Linked DNA regions of Homo sapiens: region 1 is linked to region 2. The links come from fine-mapping of genetic effects on gene expression. Tissue or cell type: aorta. Region 2 holds a variant in brackets; the other region holds the start of a gene. All regions are shown on one strand. Distances are from middle to middle.

The links. PIP is the estimated chance that this variant, and not a neighbour inherited with it, causes the effect.
Region 1: PDZRN3 starts here. The variant in region 2 is fine-mapped to the expression of PDZRN3 in aorta (GTEx, PIP 0.98).

The regions. Positions count from the first base shown.
Region 1 is chr3:73,622,113-73,627,263 of GRCh38, forward strand. PDZRN3 (PDZ domain containing ring finger 3) reads right to left here and starts at 2,829. Exons shown (of 10, transcript NM_015009.3): 1 at 1,991-2,829. The coding sequence starts at 2,713. It overlaps PDZRN3-AS1 (PDZRN3 antisense RNA 1), which reads left to right and starts at 1,456. Exons shown (of 2, transcript NR_046681.1): 1 at 1,456-1,853; 2 at 3,300-5,151. RefSeq lists an enhancer at 248-762.
Region 2 is chr3:73,825,782-73,830,932 of GRCh38, forward strand. The region is part of intron 2 of LINC02005 (long intergenic non-protein coding RNA 2005); the gene reads left to right. Among named protein-coding and RNA genes, the nearest start is that of LINC02005, 19 kb to the left of the region's middle. The variant G/A (reference allele first, on the strand shown) is at 2,168.

The DNA.
Region 1 (5,151 bases), 200 kb before region 2:
CCTGATTGAAGACCAAGCTTTGCCCTCTGTTTTGGTGATTCGAAGGCTCACACCAGTCTTTTGTGTGCCTGTGAGGTCCTGGGCAAGCTGTGGAGCTGTAAATATTTGCCCTTCGCCCAGAGCTGGCCAGCTGCTGAGACTGCAGCTGACAGACAGGCCAGGGGCCAGGAAGGGGGGCCAGGTCGGAAAACTTGCAGGCCTGGTGTGCACGTAAGGAAAGGGGGCTGGGAGAGGGCAGAGAGAGGCAAAGCAGACACAGGCCCTTGGGGGAGCCTCGGGCAAATATTTTCCCCTTTCTGCCACACCATCTGGAGCAGGCAACCAGAGCGGTGGCAGCAGGCCCAGGCCCCTCCCCAGGAAGGCAGAAGTACCCAGCTGTTGAAAATGTGGCTTCTGCAATCAGGGAAACCAGTGGTTCTCAACCTGGGCGACTTTGCCCCTCCAGAGGACACTTGACAATATTTGGATTGTCACGACTTGGGAGGGAGGCCAAGAATGCTGCTAAACATCCTACAATGCACAGCACAGTACCTCCCCTCCCAACTAAGAGTTATGGGGCCCAAAATGCCAATATGCCCCAAAACTGAGAACTCTGAGGTAGAATCTGAGTCCGGCTCTGCTCCCTGAGTCACTACTTAATTTTGGACAAGTTATATAACTTCTCTGAGTCTGTTCCCTCATCTCAAAGGACAACATAGGTAATGCATGTAAAGTACTTCCTATTGTTGGTGGCACTTAATAAACACTCAATAAATGGTCCTTGTGGTTGCACTGAGGAGCAACATGATAGTTTATAGAACGTGGGCTGGAAAGATGGGCACGCAAAGGTTCAACATGCAGCTTTGCACCCAAAAGCTGTGACCCAGGCATGAAACTGCCCCTTAATGAGCCTCAGTTTTTTCATCTACTAAGTGGGAAGGGTCACACCAACCTCACTTGATTAAAAAGGAAATGACTGGGAAGAATGCAGCACCCAGCCTGGAGCAAAGTAAACCCTCGCTCAAGGGGACCGCTCAGGTGGAGATGTTAAAAATAATTCTAGGTAACACTTGTTGAGCATTTATTTACTCTCTGCCAGGCACAGTACGAGGCCCTTCTACTAAACTCTCTCCCTGAAGCCTGACAAAAACCTTTCGCACTGAGGGAAACTGAGGGATCTGGGAATTAAGCCAGAAGCTCACCCAGCTGGTCAGCAAAAAGCCCAGATTTGAAAACAGTTTTAACTCCAGAGGACTCACACTTAATTATTACTTTATACTTGTTGGGGGCAGAGTGCTCCTTTAATTCTTTCTGAAATCCCTGGATGAATACCTCAGGGGTGCCTGGCTGTGTTTTTACTCTGTATACCACGTCTCTAGGGACCATAGTTTCCAACTTTAGAGAGGTTAAGCAGCTTGCTCAAGGTCAGCCAGCTAGTTGGCTGCAAAGCCCACGCTTGCATCCAGCTTTTACCCCAGAGGCCTCTCTTCTGATATCCTTCTTAACTTAATCTACACTGGCTGTGGGTTCCCTTTATTTTTTTTTCTGGAATCCTAGAGGATGCACGGATACAATTCACCCAATGTGTCCATCTCTCCTCTCCTAAGTGTCAGTCTATAGGTTTCTGACCTCTAGAGGGTAAGCAACTTGCCCGAGATCCCCTAGCTGGTCTGAGCAGCAAAGCCTTTGAACGCAGTTTTGACTCTGGAGCTGCATTCTTCATTCTTATCCTACACTTGCTTGTGAATTCTTTTTCGTCCTTCCAGAATCCCTGAAGCTGTACAGCTATACTTTACCGGTTACGTCTAGACTATAAAGGACCACAGTGTTCCACCTCAGGCAGGTTCAGCGACCTGCAAGTAGTGATACAGCTGGTAAGCAGTGGAAGAAGAGGGAGGAAGCAAGGATGTTCCCGGGAAGCTCGGGGCATCCCTGTACCCAAAGGGATGGGGCGGGGCCCTGGGTCCCCAGGGATCCTGGCTGGAGGTCGGGGCGGGCAGCAGGCGCCTACCTTGCCGCCGGGCGGCGCGGCCACGCAGCGGCTGAGCGAGTCGAGGCGCGCGCTGTATTCGGTGAATTTCTTCTGGTAGCGCAGCGCGGTCATCTGCAGCTCAAGCTGCGCCGCGGCCAGCTGGGCCACCAGCGACTTCTCGCGCTTCCCAGCGCGCAGCGCCTCCTTCTTGAGCGCCTTGTGCAGCGCGCCCAGGCGGGCCTGGAGCGCGCCGTTGTGCGCCCGCAGCGCTCGCGCGCAGCAGTGGCCGCCCGCGCGCTGCTCGCCGTGCGTCAAGGGTAGCCCGCAGCCCTCCTGGCAGCGGCCCACTGGCCGCGCGTCGCAGGCGTCGCGCATGTGCGCCTCCACGTCGCGCCGCAGCAGCACCTGGCCGCAACCCGCGTGGCGACAGCGCGCGGGCGCGAAGTCGCAGCGCTCGAGGTGCTCCGGCAGCTGCTGCAGCTTGACCACCCGGCCGCAGCCGCGCGTCGCGTACGCGCACTTGATGTCCAGCTTGAGGATAAGGCGCTTGAGCGGCAGGACGTGGTTGAGCTCTTTGGCCGACAGGCGACCGCGGCAGCGCGCCGGGCAGCTGCCCTCCTGCACCACCCAGGGCAGCACGCAGCCGGCGCAGAAGACGTGGCCGCACGGCGTGGTCAGCGGGTCCTCCAGGACCTTGTGGCACAGCGCGCACTTCAGGTCCGGGTCCACGTCGCCGTCGAAGCGGTCCAGCTCGAAGCCCATGGTGGCGGCCAGGCCCCGGGGTCGCCGCCGGGCGGCCGGGCGCCCCCTCCCTCCCCACGAGGCGGCCCAGACAGGCCGGCTACGCCGCCCGCGCGCTCGCTGGCTCTCCCCGGACTGAGCCTAATTGATCCAGACTTCCTCGGAAAATGCCCGAGGAACAGGACTCCTCCGGCCGTATTTGCGCGAGCGCGAGCGCACATACATCGTGCCTTGGATGCCTCCCGCCAGCCCCCCGAAAAAGGGAGGAGGCTGGAAGGCAGAAGCGCGTGGGAGGACACTGAGGCTCGCCAGAAGGGACGGGCCAGCCCAGGACGCCAGCCTGAATCTTCTCGGGAAACTCCTTTCTGTTCTCTTACAGTCTACGCTATAGGAGACAAAACGCCAGCCGAGAAAAGCTCGCTGAGTTTGGAGCTGAGGCTACTGCTTTCTCCCAAGGGTTCTCTTCGAGCCCCTTCCCGAACGGATCAAAACTTTTTTACTCCCTTCTCCCTCCCCCTTCCTCTAGTGGCTGATTGCAGAGGACTAAAAATATCTTGGGGCCCGCTATCTCAGCACTTACGGTCTTTATTTATTTATTTCATTCCAGGGAAAGTTACAGAGCCTGCGGGAAGCTCCGGCTGCAACTTCAGTTCTGACCAGAGGTTCTGTGAACCTTCAGGATTTAGCAGGTTTCCAGGACCGGTGGGTGAATCTACCCGGGGAAGTTTTGGTGGACAAGAGCTGCTCGCCAGCTGTCGGAGTGGGAGAGGCCAGCGTGCTGGCTCCATCCACTTCACCTAACACCTCTGAAGTGTCTGCCCTGCAGTGTGGCAAGCGTGGTGCTGAGCGCTTCTAAATCCGTCGCTTTAAAGATCATTAGTACAATGTTGTGAGAGGGTTAGCTCCATTTGAAAATTATTTTCCCGTGATTACAAAAGAAGCGATGCTGACTGCAGAAGTTAGAACTGGGAGAAGACTCATCACCCCCATGATCATGTCAACAACTGCCCTCCTTCAGTTTTGGTTTGTTTTGTGTGTACACTCTGTCATCTTTCCATTGAGGAAACTCAGGCTAGAAGAAGGATAAAAACAAAACAGAAAACAAAACAAAACAAAAGTGCCCTGTAGGGTCCTGTAGGTCAGTGTTTCTCACATTTTAATGTGGTTGCGGTTCTGATACAGTGGGTCTGGGGCGGGTTCTGAGAATCTCCATACTGAAAGCACTTCCAAGTGATGCCAATGCTGCTAGTCCATGCTGGTCCTTGGATTCCCACTTGATTGGAAAACCCTGGCGATCCATAGATCTGGACATTCATTCCCTGCAGTACAGCAAACCTGGCTGGGTAGGATTCAGCAACAGTCCTGAGCAATGGAGGAATATTTTTGGAATTCCAAACTGGGTGTAAAGTTCATAGCATCATCCATTGATTTTATTTTATTTTATTTTTACCTCCCAAGGCTATAGACATTCCTAAGAAACACGCAGTCAGCTTTTGGTGAGAGTGGAATCAAGCTATGGAATTCTCATTTGGAATCTGCTTCCAGTTTCTGAACAGTGAAGCGGGAGAGTTCTGAACAGTAAAGCAGGAGCTCTGTATTCAGCGAGACTCTGGGGCCTGGAAAGTGGGATTACAGCATCCATTTTGTCTAATTGCTTTCCTTCTTTCTTTTATGTGGCTGCTAAAGCCCCATGACCTTCACTATTTAACTGCTTCATCAGAGTGAAAGAATTGCCTTGATGTTCATAAGGATTACTTGTTTCACACTGACCTTTAAAAAGTTGTCACTCACTAGATTTTTCAGTGCATGGTTGAGGTCACTGGACAGTGTTCTTTAATCAGTTTTGGTGGCATTTGTTGCCTATTTGAGGTGGAGACTTTCTTTTAATTGCTTTAATCAATTAATGCATTGCTTTGATAGGATTCTGCATGGGGTGGAATATTATTGGCCTTTGTTCAGATAAGCTTGTGCCAGGGAATCCTCCATCAGTATATTCATTAAACTGCTCATGGGCTCTCAGATAATGGGTAGGAAACAAATTCTTTCACCAAAGGTGTGTGGGCTTGTCAGTTTCACAGAATGAGCTAGTGTCAACAGGGTGATAATCTTCAAACCAAACTGGTTTTGAGAAACAGAGAAGTTCTGTCCTACACCATAAATGTAAATTAGTGCTTACTTGGGGTGTACACTTTTTTGGAGATGTTCTACCACCCCTCGGGTGGTCTCCCAGATGGCAGATTGAGAGGTTGTTGCTGAAATGCTACAGCTGAGGCCACAGAGAAGCCATAGCCTACTGTGGATTGGCCTCTTTAGGCAAAAGGAAAGTCTGTGCCACTCCTCAATGGTTAATTTTAGTATCAAAATTCTTGGAGGTTAGAAAAAAAATCCTACAATGTCAGAGCTGGCAAGACTATTATTTCAGTCACCAAACTTAACAGGAGAAACGAGAGCCAAAAATA
Region 2 (5,151 bases):
CACCCCCATGCCAACTGCCATGTTGCCCACCCACCATTTTTTTAATCCATTACCTGGGCACCAGGGCCTCCTTGCTGTTTGGCTTGTATTAACTCCTCAGTTCTTGCTTTTTGAAGTAGAAAAGTTTAGTTTTCTTTCTCTCAGTCTTCTACCACTCCAACCACACCCCACAGGCACTAATATGTTTATTCACTCAAAAAATATTTGAGTCCCTTCTAAGAACCTGGCACTGTGGAAAAGTGAGCAAAACTGTGCTAGGTCTTTACCATGATGGAGCTTACAGTTTTATTAGGGAAACAAATGTTAAAGAGACAGTCATACTAAACAAATGCCAAAGTGAAACAATGTAATGTGTAGGGGAAGGGGCAAAGAGAGGTAGAACTTTGTGGGGTTAGGGGATGGAGGATGGGGGGAGGCAGATTAGCTTCTGGGAGGAAATGATGGTCATGCAGAGTTTGAGACCTAAAGAATAAGAGGGAGGTGCTGTTAGCTGCCACCTACACTCACTGATGCTCCCTGTGTAGGCACAAGAGGCTGCAGATGGAACAAATTTAAATCTCGTTCTCTCTTTACATACATATATAAAATAACTTAATATATGAAACTATTGTCTAAGACAAGCAGGCCTTATTTTGAACTCCCCACTGTAGTGGGGATTAATAATGACCACTATTTCTGGCTTTATTGTTCCCCTGTGGGAGTTAAAGACACTGAGGAGACACAGATCCTCATAAATGAACAAAGCAATTTAGCTCTATAGCCTGGGGATATTATTGTCAAAATATACTTTGAAAAAAAGTTTAAGAGTAATTCTCTTCCAAGTTCCATGGGATGGTACGATTGGTCTCCCGTCTCCCCGCCTCGCTCATACCAATTAACCCTCTGAAACAGCTTAGTTCTTTTGGCCTTAAAATAAAAGAAATAGAGGTAATCATTTGAACAAAGTTGAACATTTCTTAATAGGCCCAAATACTCTATTTATTAAATAATAGATTGGCCTAACTTTCCATTATTTTTAAAATGATGTTATATAGAGATTAGGGAAAAATAGCCAATAAAAATTGTTGCAGAAAGTTTGGTAATTCCCAATACATTTGGGATTTATTGGTAACATAAAAATAGAGAAAAAGAGTTGACTATTTATGATGATGTTAGTGGGACTCAATGGTTCATCAGACTGTGTAACTAATTTTAATGTGACATTTGCTAATTACCTTACAGATCAGCCAGGTCATCTTCTCCTAGAGTTAACCTAGTTAGAATAGGGCAAAGTCCTCATTCACTTTTAGAGCTTGTTAAATATTTGATTCCTTCCCGGCAGGTACTCTGGGGTCTTGATATTTCTTATTCAGCTGTGTTTCACTTTTGGGTGCCTTCGAGATGCCAAAGGTTAAGCTTAAGCCTCTGTGGTACCCCACAGTGAGACCAGCCATTATGCATGATACCACATAGCCAAAGCTTAATATGTGGCCAAATTTCATTAAGATAAAACTGAAATAAGATTTTGTACTTAAATATTGTGGAAATAAACAGAGACCAAATCAGGACAAGCAGACTATTCAAAGCTTGCTGTAGTATAGGAGTCAGCCACTGTCACTCGCATTTGGCAGAGGCTGAAAGGTTGGCAGAAGAGTGGGAAAACTTTATAGTAGGCAGCAAGGGCAGGCTTCAAGTATGCCCTGATTGGAAGCTGTTGACACAGGGAAGCTGTAGGTGAGCTAAGAGGTAGTGCATCCTACCTATTTGGTTAGGGGTGCACATTTGGATTTCTTTGGTTTGTTGTAAGCAGGGACGACAATTAGGGAAGCTGTCAGGTACTAATCAAGCCCTGGTTGTTTGGGGCCAAATGCTACAGGGGTTGTTGTTTGGGGCCAAATGCTACAGGGGTTGTTGTTTGGGGCCAAATGCTACAGGGGTTGTTGTTTGGCTTCCTGGATTGTAACGAGACAGCAATTTGGCTTCCTTCAAGTCTGACTTAGAACAGCCTGGCTTCCTGGACTGCTGCTGCAGATTGCAGGTCAAAGTTCTATTATTATACATGGCCTAGTCATTTTCCATTGGTATGTTCAGCCTCTTAGTATTTTTACTGTGCTCTGTCTTATGAGTTTTGCAGCACCGCTACACTCAGGGTGTGTGTTTTCTTCACAAAATATGGGCACTGGGATTT[G/A]CTAAATGTCTGGCTGTTGCAAGTCTCCAGAGTACCTTCTTATCACACAATTCAGAGTATTCTAGAAAGCAGGATAAGAATGTTTGCACTACCAAACTCAGCTCTTTAATGATATGTGGACACAGGCAGACATAGCTAATTAAACTACAGTAAGATATGCAGCAATAGGATAAGAAGGACCGAGACCTTGAAACTAAGCTGGGCACTGGTTGGATGAGGCATGCCAGGGGTGAGGGGAGAGGGAAAGAAGGTTCAGGACTCCAACTCCAATAAAGATCTGGGATAAAGTCTGTTTTAGAAGCAGAGAACACAATTATTATATTTAGTACCATTAAATATGCTTTCATTTCATGCTAAGTGCTGTGTGAAGCATATTTTTTTCTAGTATTTTGTGTAAGCTTCATTAAAATCCTATAACATCAATACTTAGACTATCCCTTTTTACAGATGAGAAAATTAAGACTCAGAAAAATTAAGTGTTTTGCCCAAGCTCACATAGCTCGTGAGATACAGAACTGGTACTTGGGAGCAGCAGCTGACCCCAGAGTCAGATTTGCATTCGGCCCCCTCCTCCACCCCCTCAGCTTCTATTCTTGGTGGCCCACCCCACAACCACCAGCTGTGTCTCTCTTGGCTGGGAGGCAGCTCTCTTGGGCGATTTAATAGTAAAGTGGCTTAAACTGTGATAATTAAGTGATTGTGCCTTCTTTCTCCAGATTTCTTTTCCCTTGAGTAGAAAGAAACCATGTCCATTGCCTAAGCAGACATCCAACCAGGGCAAGAATTGCCAGTATCTCCCTCATTTCATACATGCCTTCTTTCTGTGCATGGATGTCTCAAAACCTTTCTCACTTGGATGGTGGAGTGTGATGAAGTCCTTGGGAAGGGGACATGGGAAGGGATTGTACTGCTGAGGAAAGTATTTGGCATCTGACTTTGACTCCCTTCTCCTCTCAAGTAGTCAGTTTTTGTGAATTAGAAATAGCAGGTGGAGTTTTTCATTGTGATAGGGACTTTTTGGGCAACTACTTATAAGCCTTTAGAGCATGTTGTTGGACCAGCTTCAGATTGTGACGTACTTTAGTGCCTATTTTCAGCTGTGGGATTTTCATCCATTGATATAATGAAGTTAGGCACACAGAGGTATGTAGAGGTGGGCAGAGGGGAGTGGTACCCTCCTTAATTTGAAAACCTTCATAAAGACATGATACCTGCATGTATGAAGTACAGTTAAACAGCAAAGGAAGCCTGGGGGGAGGAAAAAAAACATATGTACAGTTTAAGGAAGAGAAGGAATTGAAGTGAGCTGAAGTGAGCAGCCAAATAAGCAGAGAAATTGCCCAGATTATAAGCAATCTAGTGCTATTAAAGTCAGAAATACAAGGTGGGTGGTTATATCAGGCTAAAGGTCCTTTAACACCCCACACCTAAAATCGGGATTATTTTTAAAGAAGGAGGGATGAAAACGCAAAAAGATCAAATGACCCTAAGTTTTGTTAAAGGAAGCTGCAGAGATTAGCATCAAAGCTCCAAGCTTCTCAGTGGCCATCATCTCTCTACCCAAACTATAAAACGTTCACCTAGGCAAACTTAAGTGGAGTGCAAATTCTTAAATAGAAACTTATTTCCAGATGCTACATCAAGATCAATAATCACTATCCCCTCTGCTGTTTAACAAACACACAAATATAAACAGTCCATAAACACTTTTGTCTTTGTAAACTCAGAAATTTTGTCATGTGATTGTGAGTGAAGGCAGTAGCCATACCCAATCTGCTCATCATTGTATATCTAAACCATTACCAAGTACGGTATCTGGAATAATGGATATTTGCGACAACAAAAATATTTCAGTGCATGAATAATGATTCTTCCTTACTCCTCCAAAGGAAAAAATCGTGATGATGTCATTTGATTAATGATGTTTCAAAAATATAACATGTAATTATTATTATTATTATTATTATGAAACGGAGTCTTATTCTGTTGCCCAGGCTGCAGTGCAATGGCACAATCTTGGCTCACTGCAACCTCTGCCTCCCGGGTTCAAGCAATTCTCCTGCCTCAGCCTCCTGAGAAGCTGGGATTACAGGCACGCACCACCACACTGAGCTAATTTTTGTATTTTAGTAGAGATGGGGTTTCACCATGTTGGCCAGGCTGGTCTTGAACTCCTGACCTCGTGATCTGCCTGCCTCGGCCTCCCAAAGTGCTGGGATTACAGGCATGAGCTACCATGCCCGGCCCATGTAATTCTTTTAAAGGGGATTATATCTCATTTATTTATTCACCTATTGATGATGTTTGTGTCGTTTCTAGTTTGAGGCTATTAGGATAAAGCTTTATGAACATTCATGTACAAGTTTTGTGTAGACATAGGCTTTTGTTTCTCTTGGGTAAATGCCTTAGGAGTAGAATTGCTTGGTTCTAGGTCAGTCTTGTGTTTACTTTTGAGAGAAACATCTCAGTCTTTTTCCAAAGTATTTGCATGGTTTTACACTCCCATGAGCTATAATAAAGAGTTCAAGTGGCTGCATATCATGGCCAACATTTGGAGGTGTCAGTTTTTAAATTTTAGCCATTCTGGTGAGCTTGTAGTGCTACTCATTGTGGTTTTACTTGATGAATAATAACGTTGAGCACTTATTCAAATGCGTATTGATCATTTGTATATCTGTTCAAAACCTTTCCCCATTTAAAAAAATGGAGTTTGTCCTCTTAGTTTTCTTTATAGATTAAATATAAATCTTAGATATGGACCTTTTGTTAGATGTAGTTATTGGAAATATTTTACCCCAGTCTGTGGCTTACCTTTTCCTTGTTTCTTAAGGAGGCTTCTAAAAAAATAAAGTTTAAAATTTTGATTAAAGCCCAGTTTGTTAATTTTTTTCATAATATTCAATTGTCGGGATTAGTTTATGGTTTTGATGGCAGGAGCTAGCTCAAAGGCAGTTGTAAAGTGTTTATGCCAACTTTTGGATCTC